3 linked regions of the Homo sapiens genome follow. The protein of the gene in region 1 interacts with the protein of each later gene in a pairwise test. Each region holds a gene or a part of one and is shown in the gene's direction. Other genes may lie near its edges. The genes, in order: NME4, CCDC102B and HBD.

Region 1 (3,752 bases):
AAGTCACTTCTTTATACCATAGTACTGCAAATTCTAGTCAGAGCAACTAGACAAGAAAATAAAATAAAAGGCATTCAGATTGGAAAGAAAGAACTGAAACCGTCTCTATTCCCATATGACATGATGTTTTTTCTTTTCTTTTTTTTTTTTTTTTTGAGACAGAGTCTTGCTCTGTTGCCCAGGCTGGAGTGCAGTGGCATGCTCTCGGCTCATTGTGAGCTCCACCTCCTGGGTTCAAGCCATTCTCCTGCCTCAGCCTCCTGAGTAGCTGGGATTACAGGCATGCACCACCATGTCCAGCTAATTTTTGTATTTTTAGTAGAGACGGGGTTTCACCACGTTGACCAGGCTGGTCTTGAACTCCTGACCTCGTGATCCGCTCGCCTCGGGCTCCCAAAGTGCTGGGATTACAGACATGAGCCAGTGTGCCCCGCTCCATATGACACAATCTTATACAAAGAAATTCCCAAGGAATTAATTAAAAACTATTAGAACTAATAAATGCATTTGGAAGGCTTGCAGGATACAAGATCAATACACAAAGCTCAATTGTTGGCCAGGCGTGGTGGCTCACGCCTGTAATCCCAGCCCTTTGGGAGGCCAAGGCGGGTGGATCACCTGAGGCCACGAGTTTGAGACCAGCCTGGCCAACATGGCGAAACCCCGTCTCTACTAAAAATAAAAAAAAACACCAGCCAGGTGTGGTGGCAAGCTCCTGTAATTCCATCTACTCGGGAGCCTGAGGCAGGATAACTGCTTGAACCTGGGAGGCGGAGGCTGCAGTGAGCAGAGATATGCCATTATTGCACTCCAGCCTGGGCAACAAGAGCGACACTCTGTCTGAAAACAAACAAACCTCAATTGTCTGTTATACACTTGCAATGGACAATTCAAATAAGAAAACAATTCCATTCACAATAGCAGCAAAAAGAACAGGCTTTTTCAAGACTCATTAAGTAAGTTCTAGCAGTGGGAGACCTAACCATTTCAAATAGTAGCATGCTGTGCTATCTACCCAAATATTACCGTACCTGTGAATTCTGTTGGTGACAAAGTCACAGGCCCTGCAACTATGAATGTGGCTTCTTCCTTATATCCGCAATTGAATGAATTAGAGGAATGCAGTCACATCAGAGGCCATTTGAGAATAAAGGTCGGATTTTTCCCCATTCAAATTCACAGACCAGGCTCACATCTGTAATCCCAGCACCTTGGGAAGCCAAGGCAGGAGGATTTCTTGATCCCAGGAGTTTGAGACCAGCATGGGCAACATAGGGAGGCCCCATCTCTACAAAAAATTAAAATATTAGCTGGTTGTGGTGGCGCGGGTCTGTAGTCCCGCCTACTCGTCCTGGCCGCAGAGTCAGCGTCTCCGGAGCGCCTCCTTCTCCCGCCCTGGGGCTCACGTGGGAATTTCACCCTCCATTGGAGGGGGCTCAGACCAGGGCTTCTAGACCTCCTTTTGGTCCGTGAATTTATTTTTGAGACAGAGTCTTGCTCTATTGCTCAGGCTGGAGTGCAGCGGTGCAGTCACAGCTCACTGCAGCCTCAATCTCCTGGGCTCACGCGATCCTCCTGCCTCAGCCTCCCGAGTGGGCCTTCCTCCGTGGGAAAGCGTTAAAACGATAGTTAACGGTTGCGTCGGTGTAAAGACGAATGCAATTCGAGAAGGATTCATTATTATTTTGTTTTTTCTTCTGATTTTTAACAGAAATTGGCGTTGAACATTTCCCCCGTGAGCGCCGGGCCACGGGGGTCCGGGGCGGCGGGGGGCTCCGGGGCGGCGGGGGGCTCCCGGGCGGGCGGGGGCGGGTCTCGGGCTGGCACCGCCCTCCGCGCCCGCTCCTCGCGCTCACAGCGGCCCGCGGGCCGGGCGTCATGGGCGGCCTCTTCTGGCGCTCCGCGCTGCGGGGGCTGCGCTGCGGCCCGCGGGCCCCGGGCCCGAGCCTGCTAGTGCGCCACGGCTCGGGTGAGTGGGGCCGCGCGCCCCGGCGGGGACGCGGAGGGGAGGAAGGGGCGCGCGCCGCTCGGCCTTTGTGCGCGCACGTGCGGGCTGGGGTCCGACTCCCCCAGAGGCCTCGGGGCGCGGGCTGCGGGGTCCGTCCGAGTTGGGGAAGGCGCCGGCTCGCACCCGCACGCCCCTCCAGTGCCCGTCCGGCTCTGCGGCTCCTTCTCGCCTCCCCAGGCCCCAGGCTGCAGGCGCCCGGCGAGTTGGCAGCCTGGGCGGGTCCGGGGCGACCGAGGGCCCGGGAGCGCAAGGAAGGCAGAGGCCGGCTGCAGCACTGGGCGGGGAGGGGGTCTCCCGGCCGGGGTGGGGGTGGGGGTGTGGGGGGGTGAGGGAGTCGGGGGGTGGGGGTGGGGGTGTGGGGGGGTGAGGGAGTCGGGGGGTGGGGGTGGGGGGAGCCGCTCCGCTGGGGCGTTCGCTGAAGGCCAAGTTAGGCCAGAATCTGACTGGGACGTCAGGCCCCAAGTCCCCGGCCCCGCCGCTGCCCGGCCCCCCCAGCTGCCACCTCACAGGACGATCCATGTCCCAGGGCTCCCTCCATCGGCTCTGAAAAGTGAGCCGCCGCCTGCAATGCCCGCACCAGCCGCAGCAGAGCCCCAGGCTACACAAGGCGCCCTGCAAACTGGGTTTTGGGGGAACAAACCAACCAGGGGGTCTTCCTCCCGTGGGCTTCAGCCGCCTGCTGGGGTTAACTTTTCCTCCTGGCCTGGCGGAGCCCCTTTGGCTCTGTCCAGATTCTGTGGGACATACAGGGTCTGGGCTCCTCTGGAAACCAGGGACCCGATGCCGGAGGGTAGCTTGGCTCTGGAGCAGCCTGGGACTATAGGAAGGTGAGGACGTCTTCTGTTTCCCTGGCAGCGTCCCCTCCAGAGGAGGACGGCTGGGGCGGAGCTCAGCGCTGACCCTGGGTCTGGAAGCGACAGGCCTTGAAACTCCACAGCAGCACAGGCCCCGTCTCCTGGCTCGGACAGAACCCTGCTACCTTCCCTCTTCAATCTTCAGGCCCCTTTTTGTCCGTGTTTCCAGGGCTCACCTGGTGGGGAAAGTGTGTTTCTCCCTGGTTCCCTGCCACTCATTCACCTCAGACACAGGGTGGGCTCTGGGTTCTTCCTCATGTGGAAAGTCGGGGCTTCAGACCATGTCTGTCGTCATCCAGAAGGGATGGAGTCAAAAGTGAGGCTGGAGTTTTGCAGGATCTCCAGACTTCCCTGAGGCCACTGAGCTGGGCTGTGCCTCTGTGGACCTCAGGGTGGTCGCTGAGCTGGGCTGTCCCTCCCTGGACCTTGAGGTGGTCCCTGAGCTGGCTCTGCCTCTATGGACCTTGCGGTGGTGGTCCCTGAGCTGGGCAGTGCCTCCCTGAACCTCGGGGCGATCTCAGGCAGCCTCTGCCTCTGCTGGGAGGAGCCATGGCCCCTGGGAGAGGCTAGAAGCCCTGGGGACACATTGCCTTGGGTGTCCCTGACAGGGACTATCATGGGGGTGTTTGTGGCTGTGGGCACCATCCCTGTCCCTTCCAGAGTGCCCTGCATAGAGGCAGACACCCTGAAGCCTGGTGACCCCTGGGCTCTGGCTGGGAAACCCGGGTCGTGGGGACGTGAAAGGGTGAGGTGGCAGTGCCTCTGACCTCTTGCCTTTTGAAGGAGGGCCCTCCTGGACCCGGGAGCGGACCCTGGTGGCGGTGAAGCCCGATGGCGTGCAACGGCGGCTCGTTGGGGACGTGATCCAGCGCTTTGAGAGGCGGGGCTTC
Region 2 (3,752 bases), on another chromosome or scaffold:
TGATTTCAGTTTAGATAAGCTGATGCCATATCTGTGTAATTTTCTAGTTGAGGGGTATAGTGGGCTGACAAATATGAGTATTGAAAATTCAGACAGTCATTGGGTCTAAAAGTAGATATTTGGGAGTCATCTAAAAAGAAAGATGGTAATTTAAACTATGAGGATGGGTGGCTTTATCCAGAGAGAGAATATACCATTTATATGTAGATTTATCTAAGAACATATGTGATGCACACCAAAGGATGGATGGAGGATGAGGCATCATCAAAGAGGGTGAGAAGGGCCAGCAAAAGAGGTCAAGAGGAAAACCAGGAGAGTGTTATGCCAAGACAAGAGATGTCTTCATGTGGGCAGGGTTGTGAACAGTATGAAAGGCTGTGTAGATGTCAACTAGAAGGATTGAGGTGAGTTAGAAAAATTAAAAATAAATAGAATATTTATGTACATGCATGTGTGTGTGTGTGTGTGTGTGTGTGTATTGTCACTTTGATGAATTAAAATCAGGTGGATGCAAGACTAAATAAAATTCTTGGCTGGAGAACTTTCAATCATTTGGCCATGACAGAAAGAATGGTACCTGAAAGTGAAAATGACTGAATTAAAAGTAAAGTTCATTGGCATACATGAAATTGACTAGAGAATGTATGGTATTTAACATCACGTGGGGAAAATCCGGACAGGAGGGAACGTTCAAAGATAGAGGAGAGAGAATCATGATTAAGTTTAGCTCGATGGGTCAATTGGCTTTATACAGGAAGATGGCCACCTTTTCCATTGCATCAGAAAGTAAGTGGGAAAAGAATGTTAAGTAGAGATAGATGATAACACCGTAATAAGCCTACAAATTAGGGAAGGGTGAAAAATAAAATAATTTGAAGACATTTATTGCCTAAATTTCAAATGTTGTTTTTTTGCTACTTAAAAGGAGCAAGGCTATCCTGTTACCTTTTGACTTTTCTTTTTTACTTTGGACATTTTTTTGCTGCTAGTTTCAACCAGAGAAGCTCTTTTTTATGTGATCTCTCGCCTCCCCCCTCAACCCCCATCAGAACACTTCCTGACAGCTGAGTCATGTCAATGGAAAGCTACTTCATATTCTTTTTCCCCAGGGAAAGGGGCCAGAGAGCTTTCACTGGGCACCCCGGGGACTACAGCTCACAATTCCTGCCAATGTGACCACAATCAAGGGTTTTGACATGCAGTTATTGTTTCATGATTTGTATACTCAAATCTTTTATTAAATATGATTTCTTTTGCTTTTGTGCAATCTAATGCAAATCAGATTGGATGAATATTTTATATTGTTCCTGTAATGTGCAGTATAATTTCCTTTTAAATATTTTTCAGATAGGTACTTCCTGGGCTTTTTTTTTTTTTTGCTTTGCTATTTTAGTTTTTCTATTATTATTACAAGTTATACTGTTGTAATTAAACATTAAGAACACTTGTGGATCAAGGCGTGGGTGTCTTTTTCTTTTTCATCCACAGTACAGGTTTCAAATGGTTGTATGGAAAGCTTTGGATAACCATACTTAGGGAACATTAAAAATGGTTTTATTTTGGTTGGCTCAATGGTGATCCAAAGAGGGGGTTGTGGTAGTGGTTTCAATAAAACTTCACAACCAATGGGAATCTTTTTTGAGTTTGTGTGGAGTGCCCTTAATGCTGGAAATAATCCTGTTGGCTAGGACTCCAGAACTGTACGGATGAGAAAAGGATGCAGGAAATTCTGTTGTTTACACATGTGGCTGCAACTGAGACACTGGAGCAGCCCAGCAAGCCCAGAGGGTAAGAGTGTTTAATAACCTTGTGGTTTTCTATTTAATTTTTATATTTTCCTGCTGAGGTACAGCATGTGTTGTTCTCAGAGCAAAGACAGTTGCTTACAAGATGCAGAGCAAAACTACTGTAGAGCTGGGAAGCAGAAGGATTTGGAGTTTCTTTTTAAAGTGATTCCTTCCTTTCCCCTTTCATTTTTCCACTGTGGGTGTTATTATCCTGACAATTTGTCATACATTTCCTGTCTTTAAAAAATAACTGTATACTAAGCAAAACTCAGGTAAGAATTTCGACTCTACATTTAGACAGTAATAGTATATGTTGATATTAAAATTTTGTTTCATTGTTCCAAATGAATGTGAATTAGTCATTGTGTTTGAAGTAATCTATATTCTTACAGTAAAAAAGTAAAATTGTTATGGAAATCCTCCTATCTATGCCTCATGTACCTTGAATTCTTTTCAATTGTTGAGTCTTCATGCTAAATTCTTGTATTCGTTAATGGAAAGTATATTTCAAACTTAGCATGAATATTGATTTCTTTACATGCTACCTGTATAGTGTGGAGGAGACAGGGATACAGAATAAAATAATAAAATCCTGTGCATAATAAAAAGTAATGCTTAGCTATATAGAAGTAAATTATAAAACTGAAAAAAAATCTCTGGAAACCTTTGGGAAGCATTTGCTTACGTTTTCTGCAAAGATAAATTATCAATTGAATGTCAAGTGAGTACATTTATTAAATATAAATATAAGAAAGATTCGTCAAAAAATATAATTAGAAATATGTCAGTAACATAGGACCAAAATATATAAAATATTTATTGATATTCTTATTTACATCAATACCAGTTTTTCTGTTTTCTAAAATAATGTGAATGTGTTTTTGCTAATAATTTTCATGGGAAATGGTGTTATTACAACTTTTGAGTAAATATTCTCTTGTTAGTAAAATATGTTATTGCCAATAAATATTTTTATATATCCAGTAAATATTCTTGAATTCTATTTCATATTTTAATGAAAGCAATAAATTAGAAAGAAGATTTATAAGTTAGCGATACAATATCTGTGTAGGTTTGTGTGACCTATTTGAATATATTCAGAAAAATGCTTTATGTGAATTGCTTTATTTTCCAAAATATCCTATGTTCTTATGAAATCATAGATAATTTCATTGTCTCTCTTTTGCATCCTTCATATGTTATCATTGGATTCAATAATTGCTTGATCACTGGGACATTGTTTCTGGGCCTCACTATGGGTTTGGCTTCAAGGTAATTTATGAATGTTTCATCTAATTATTACAGTTACAAAACAATGGCTGTAATTCTTAAAATACAAGAAATGCTCTCAGGTCGTCATATCTCTTATGCTGATATTACAAGACCAATTGAATTCTGCCATAATGCCAAAATATTCAGAAATTCCCTTTTTAGCAGGTATGTGAGTCCTAAAGAGATGCCAGAGGCTTTAAAGAAAAGTTCAACTTCTTGAACTTAGTCTTGAAAAACTAGTGGAACTTGGATAGGTGCTGAAAGCAAGAGGAATACTCTACTTTGAAGAAGTAATTGGCAAAAAGGGTTTTGAACACAAATTAGCATAGAGCATAAAAGAATGGTGAGTAATTTATCTGATTGGAGCAGAAAAAATATACCTTTGTGAGTATCAGACGTTGTACTCAATACATAGAACAGGAAAAATTGATAGAGCATCTTAACATTGCACACAGAAAAATGTGGCCTTTACATATCATACAAAGGGGACAATTGCAAGTTTCTGAAAAGAGGTGGAGTATCTGTGCCTCTTTTCATCATCTTTACCATAATCATCATCATCATCATTTTGCCAACACATAATAGCATTTTCTGCTTGCAAGGTGATTTACATACATATCCACAATTTTGATAGCTTTGCAAGAAAATGAACATTATTTTACACATTATTTTCATTTTGCACTTGAAGGAACC
Region 3 (3,752 bases), on another chromosome or scaffold:
GAATAAACATGTAACCAGATCTCCCAATGTGTAAAATCATTTCAGGTAGAACAGAATTAAAGTGAAAAGCCAAGTCTTTGGAATTAACAGACAAAGATCAAATAACAGTCCTCATGGCCTTAAGAATTTACCTAACATTTTTTTTAGAATCAATTTTCTTATATATGAATTGGAAACATAATTCCTCCCTCACAAACACATTCTAAGATTTTAAGGAGATATTGATGAAGTACATCATCTGTCATTTTTAACAGGTAGTGGTAGTGATTCACACAGCACATTATGATCTGTTCTTGTATGTTCTGTTCCATTCTGTATTCTTGACCTGGTTGTATTCTTTCTGAGCTCCAGATCCACATATCTAAGTACATCTTTTTGCATTTTACAAGAGTGCATACAATACAATGTATCCAAGACTGTATTTCTGATTTTATCGTACCACTAAACTCACAAATGTGGCCCTATTCTTGTGTTCACGACTGACATCACCGTCATGGTCCAAGTCTGATAATAGAAATGGCATTGTCACTTTCTTCCCTACTGCAACAGAAGCCCAGCTATTTGTCTCCCATTTTCTCTACTTCTAAAATACATTTCTTCACTAAGTGAGAATAATCTTTTAAAGACACAAATCAAACCATGCCACCACCTTTCTTGAATTATTCAATATCTTTCGTTGGCTTCCAGGTTACAGAAAAATAACTTGTAACAAAGTTTAAAGGTCATTCATGGCTCCTCTCTACCCTATTTTATAACATTTCCCCTTGTGATCAGAATCTCAGGCACATCATCCATCTTTCTATATACAAATAAAGTCATATAGTTTGAACTCACCTCTGGTTACTTTTAATCAACCAAATGCTGTAAAATGCATTTGTATCGCTACGTGTTAAGCAGTAGTTGATTCTTTTCATTTCTGTGTAATATTCTATTCTTTGACTATACCGTAATTTATCAATTCTACTGTTGGTAAGCATTTAAGTGGCTACCGGTTTGAGGTTTTTATGATTATTGCTGTCATAAGCATTTCTATACATGTCTTTGGATACACACATGCATGTGTTTCTGAATATCTAAAAATGTAATTGCTAGGTAATAGACTTATCAAGCATCCAGCATTTGTGGATACTATTAAAGGTTTTCCAAAGGGGTTATACTATTGTACAGTGTCACCAACAGAGTTTGAGTTTCTATTGATCCATATCACCACCAAAATTTGAACTGTCAGTCTTATCTCTTCTCTTGTCTCTTTTTTCCTCTTTTTTTTCCTTCCCTTCCCCTCTCTTCGTTTCTTTTCTCTCCTCTTCTCTTCTTTCCTCTCTTCCCTTCCCTTTCTCTTTCTCTTCCCTATCCCTTCTCCTCTCCTCTCCCCTCCTTTTTTCTCCTCTCCTCTCCATTATTTATTTTTCCTTCTTCTCCTCCATCCCTTCCATCCTCTCTCTTCCCCTCTTCCTTCCTTCCTTTCTCCATTTCTTCCTCCTCTTTCCTTCAATCCTTCCTTTTGGATATGCTCATGGGTGTGTATTTGTCTGCCATTGTGGCATTATTTGAATTCAGAAAAGAGTGAAAAACTACTGGGATCTTCATTCCTGGGTCTAATTCCACATTTTTTTTTAAGAACACATCTGTAAAAATGTTCTGTACTAGCATATTCCCAGGAACTTCGTTAAATTTAATCTGGCTGAATATGGTAAATCTACTTTTCACTTTGCATTCTTTCTTTAGTCATACCATAATTTTAAACATTCAAAATATTTGTATATAATATTTGATTTTATCTGTCATTAAAATGTTAACCTTAAAATTCATGTTTCCAGAACCTATTTCAATAACTGGTAAATAAACACTATTCATTTTTTAAATATTCTTTTAATGGATATTTATTTCAATATAATAAAAAATTAGAGTTTTATTATAGGAAGAATTTACCAAAAGAAGGAGGAAGCAAGCAAGTTTAAACTGCAGCAATAGATTTGTCCATTCCAACCTCTCAAAATTCCCTTGGAGACAAAAATCTCTAGAGGCAAAGAAGAACTTTATATTGAGTCAACTTGTTAAAACATCTGCTTTTAGATAAGTTTTCTTAGTATAAAGTGACAGAAACAAATAAGTTAAACTCTAAGATACATTCCACTATATTAGCCTAAAACACTTCTGCAAAAATGAAACTAGGAGGATATTTTTAGAAACAACTGCTGAAAGAGATGCGGTGGGGAGATATGTAGAGGAGAACAGGGTTTCTGAGTCAAGACACACATGACAGAACAGCCAATCTCAGGGCAAGTTAAGGGAATAGTGGAATGAAGGTTCATTTTTCATTCTCACAAACTAATGAAACCCTGCTTATCTTAAACCAACCTGCTCACTGGAGCAGGGAGGACAGGACCAGCATAAAAGGCAGGGCAGAGTCGACTGTTGCTTACACTTTCTTCTGACATAACAGTGTTCACTAGCAACCTCAAACAGACACCATGGTGCATCTGACTCCTGAGGAGAAGACTGCTGTCAATGCCCTGTGGGGCAAAGTGAACGTGGATGCAGTTGGTGGTGAGGCCCTGGGCAGGTTGGTATCAAGGTTATAAGAGAGGCTCAAGGAGGCAAATGGAAACTGGGCATGTGTAGACAGAGAAGACTCTTGGGTTTCTGATAGGCACTGACTCTCTGTCCCTTGGGCTGTTTTCCTACCCTCAGATTACTGGTGGTCTACCCTTGGACCCAGAGGTTCTTTGAGTCCTTTGGGGATCTGTCCTCTCCTGATGCTGTTATGGGCAACCCTAAGGTGAAGGCTCATGGCAAGAAGGTGCTAGGTGCCTTTAGTGATGGCCTGGCTCACCTGGACAACCTCAAGGGCACTTTTTCTCAGCTGAGTGAGCTGCACTGTGACAAGCTGCACGTGGATCCTGAGAACTTCAGGGTGAGTCCAGGAGATGCTTCACTTTTCTCTTTTTACTTTCTAATCTTACATTTTGGTTCTTTTACCTACCTGCTCTTCTCCCACATTTTTGTCATTTTACTATATTTTATCATTTAATGCTTCTAAAATTTTGTTAATTTTTTATTTAAATATTCTGCATTTTTTCCTTCCTCACAATCTTGCTATTTTAAATTATTTAATATCCTGTCTTTCTCTCCCAACCCCCTCCCTTCATTTTTCCTTCTCTAACAACAACTCAAATTATGCATACCAGCTCTCACCTGCTAATTCTGCACTTAGAATAATCCTTTTGTCTCTCCACATGGGTATGGGAGAGGCTCCAACTCAAAGATGAGAGGCATAGAATACTGTTTTAGAGGCTATAAATCATTTTACAATAAGGAATAATTGGAATTTTATAAATTCTGTAGTAAATGGAATGGAAAGGAAAGTGAATATTTGATTATGAAAGACTAGGCAGTTACACTGGAGGTGGGGCAGAAGTCGTTGCTAGGAGACAGCCCATCATCACACTGATTAATCAATTAATTTGTATCTATTAATCTGTTTATAGTAATTAATTTGTATATGCTATATACACATACAAAATTAAAACTAATTTGGAATTAATTTGTATATAGTATTATACAGCATATATAGCATATATGTACATATATAGACTACATGCTAGTTAAGTACATAGAGGATGTGTGTGTATAGATATATGTTATATGTATGCATTCATATATGTACTTATTTATGCTGATGGGAATAACCTGGGGATCAGTTTTGTCTAAGATTTGGGCAGAAAAAAATGGGTGTTGGCTCAGTTTCTCAG

The links.
Region 2: the proteins of NME4 (region 1) and CCDC102B interact in binary tests that used the Homo sapiens proteins (3 or more experiments, as listed by UniProt).
Region 3: the proteins of NME4 (region 1) and HBD interact in binary tests that used the Homo sapiens proteins (3 or more experiments, as listed by UniProt).

Annotation. Positions count from the first base shown.
Region 1 is NC_000016.10:395,345-399,096, forward strand, and holds the start of NME4 (nucleoside diphosphate kinase, mitochondrial isoform a precursor), read left to right. Parts: upstream 1-1,854; 5' UTR 1,855-1,878; coding exon 1,879-1,969; intron 1,970-2,397; exon of another isoform or gene 2,398-2,835; intron 2,836-2,863; exon of another isoform or gene 2,864-3,050; intron 3,051-3,645; coding exon 3,646-3,752.
Region 2 is NC_000018.10:68,796,394-68,800,145, forward strand, and holds the start of CCDC102B (coiled-coil domain-containing protein 102B), read left to right. Parts: upstream 1-1,686; 5' UTR 1,687-1,788; intron 1,789-1,877; exon of another isoform or gene 1,878-2,059; intron 2,060-3,752. UniProt on the Homo sapiens protein: During interphase, forms fibers at the proximal ends of centrioles to maintain centrosome cohesion. During mitosis, dissociates from the centrosome following phosphorylation to allow centrosome separation. Contributes to CROCC/rootletin filament formation.
Region 3 is NC_000011.10:5,233,153-5,236,904, reverse strand, and holds the start of HBD (hemoglobin subunit delta), read left to right. Parts: upstream 1-2,421; 5' UTR 2,422-2,471; coding exon 2,472-2,563; intron 2,564-2,691; coding exon 2,692-2,914; intron 2,915-3,752. UniProt on the Homo sapiens protein: Involved in oxygen transport from the lung to the various peripheral tissues.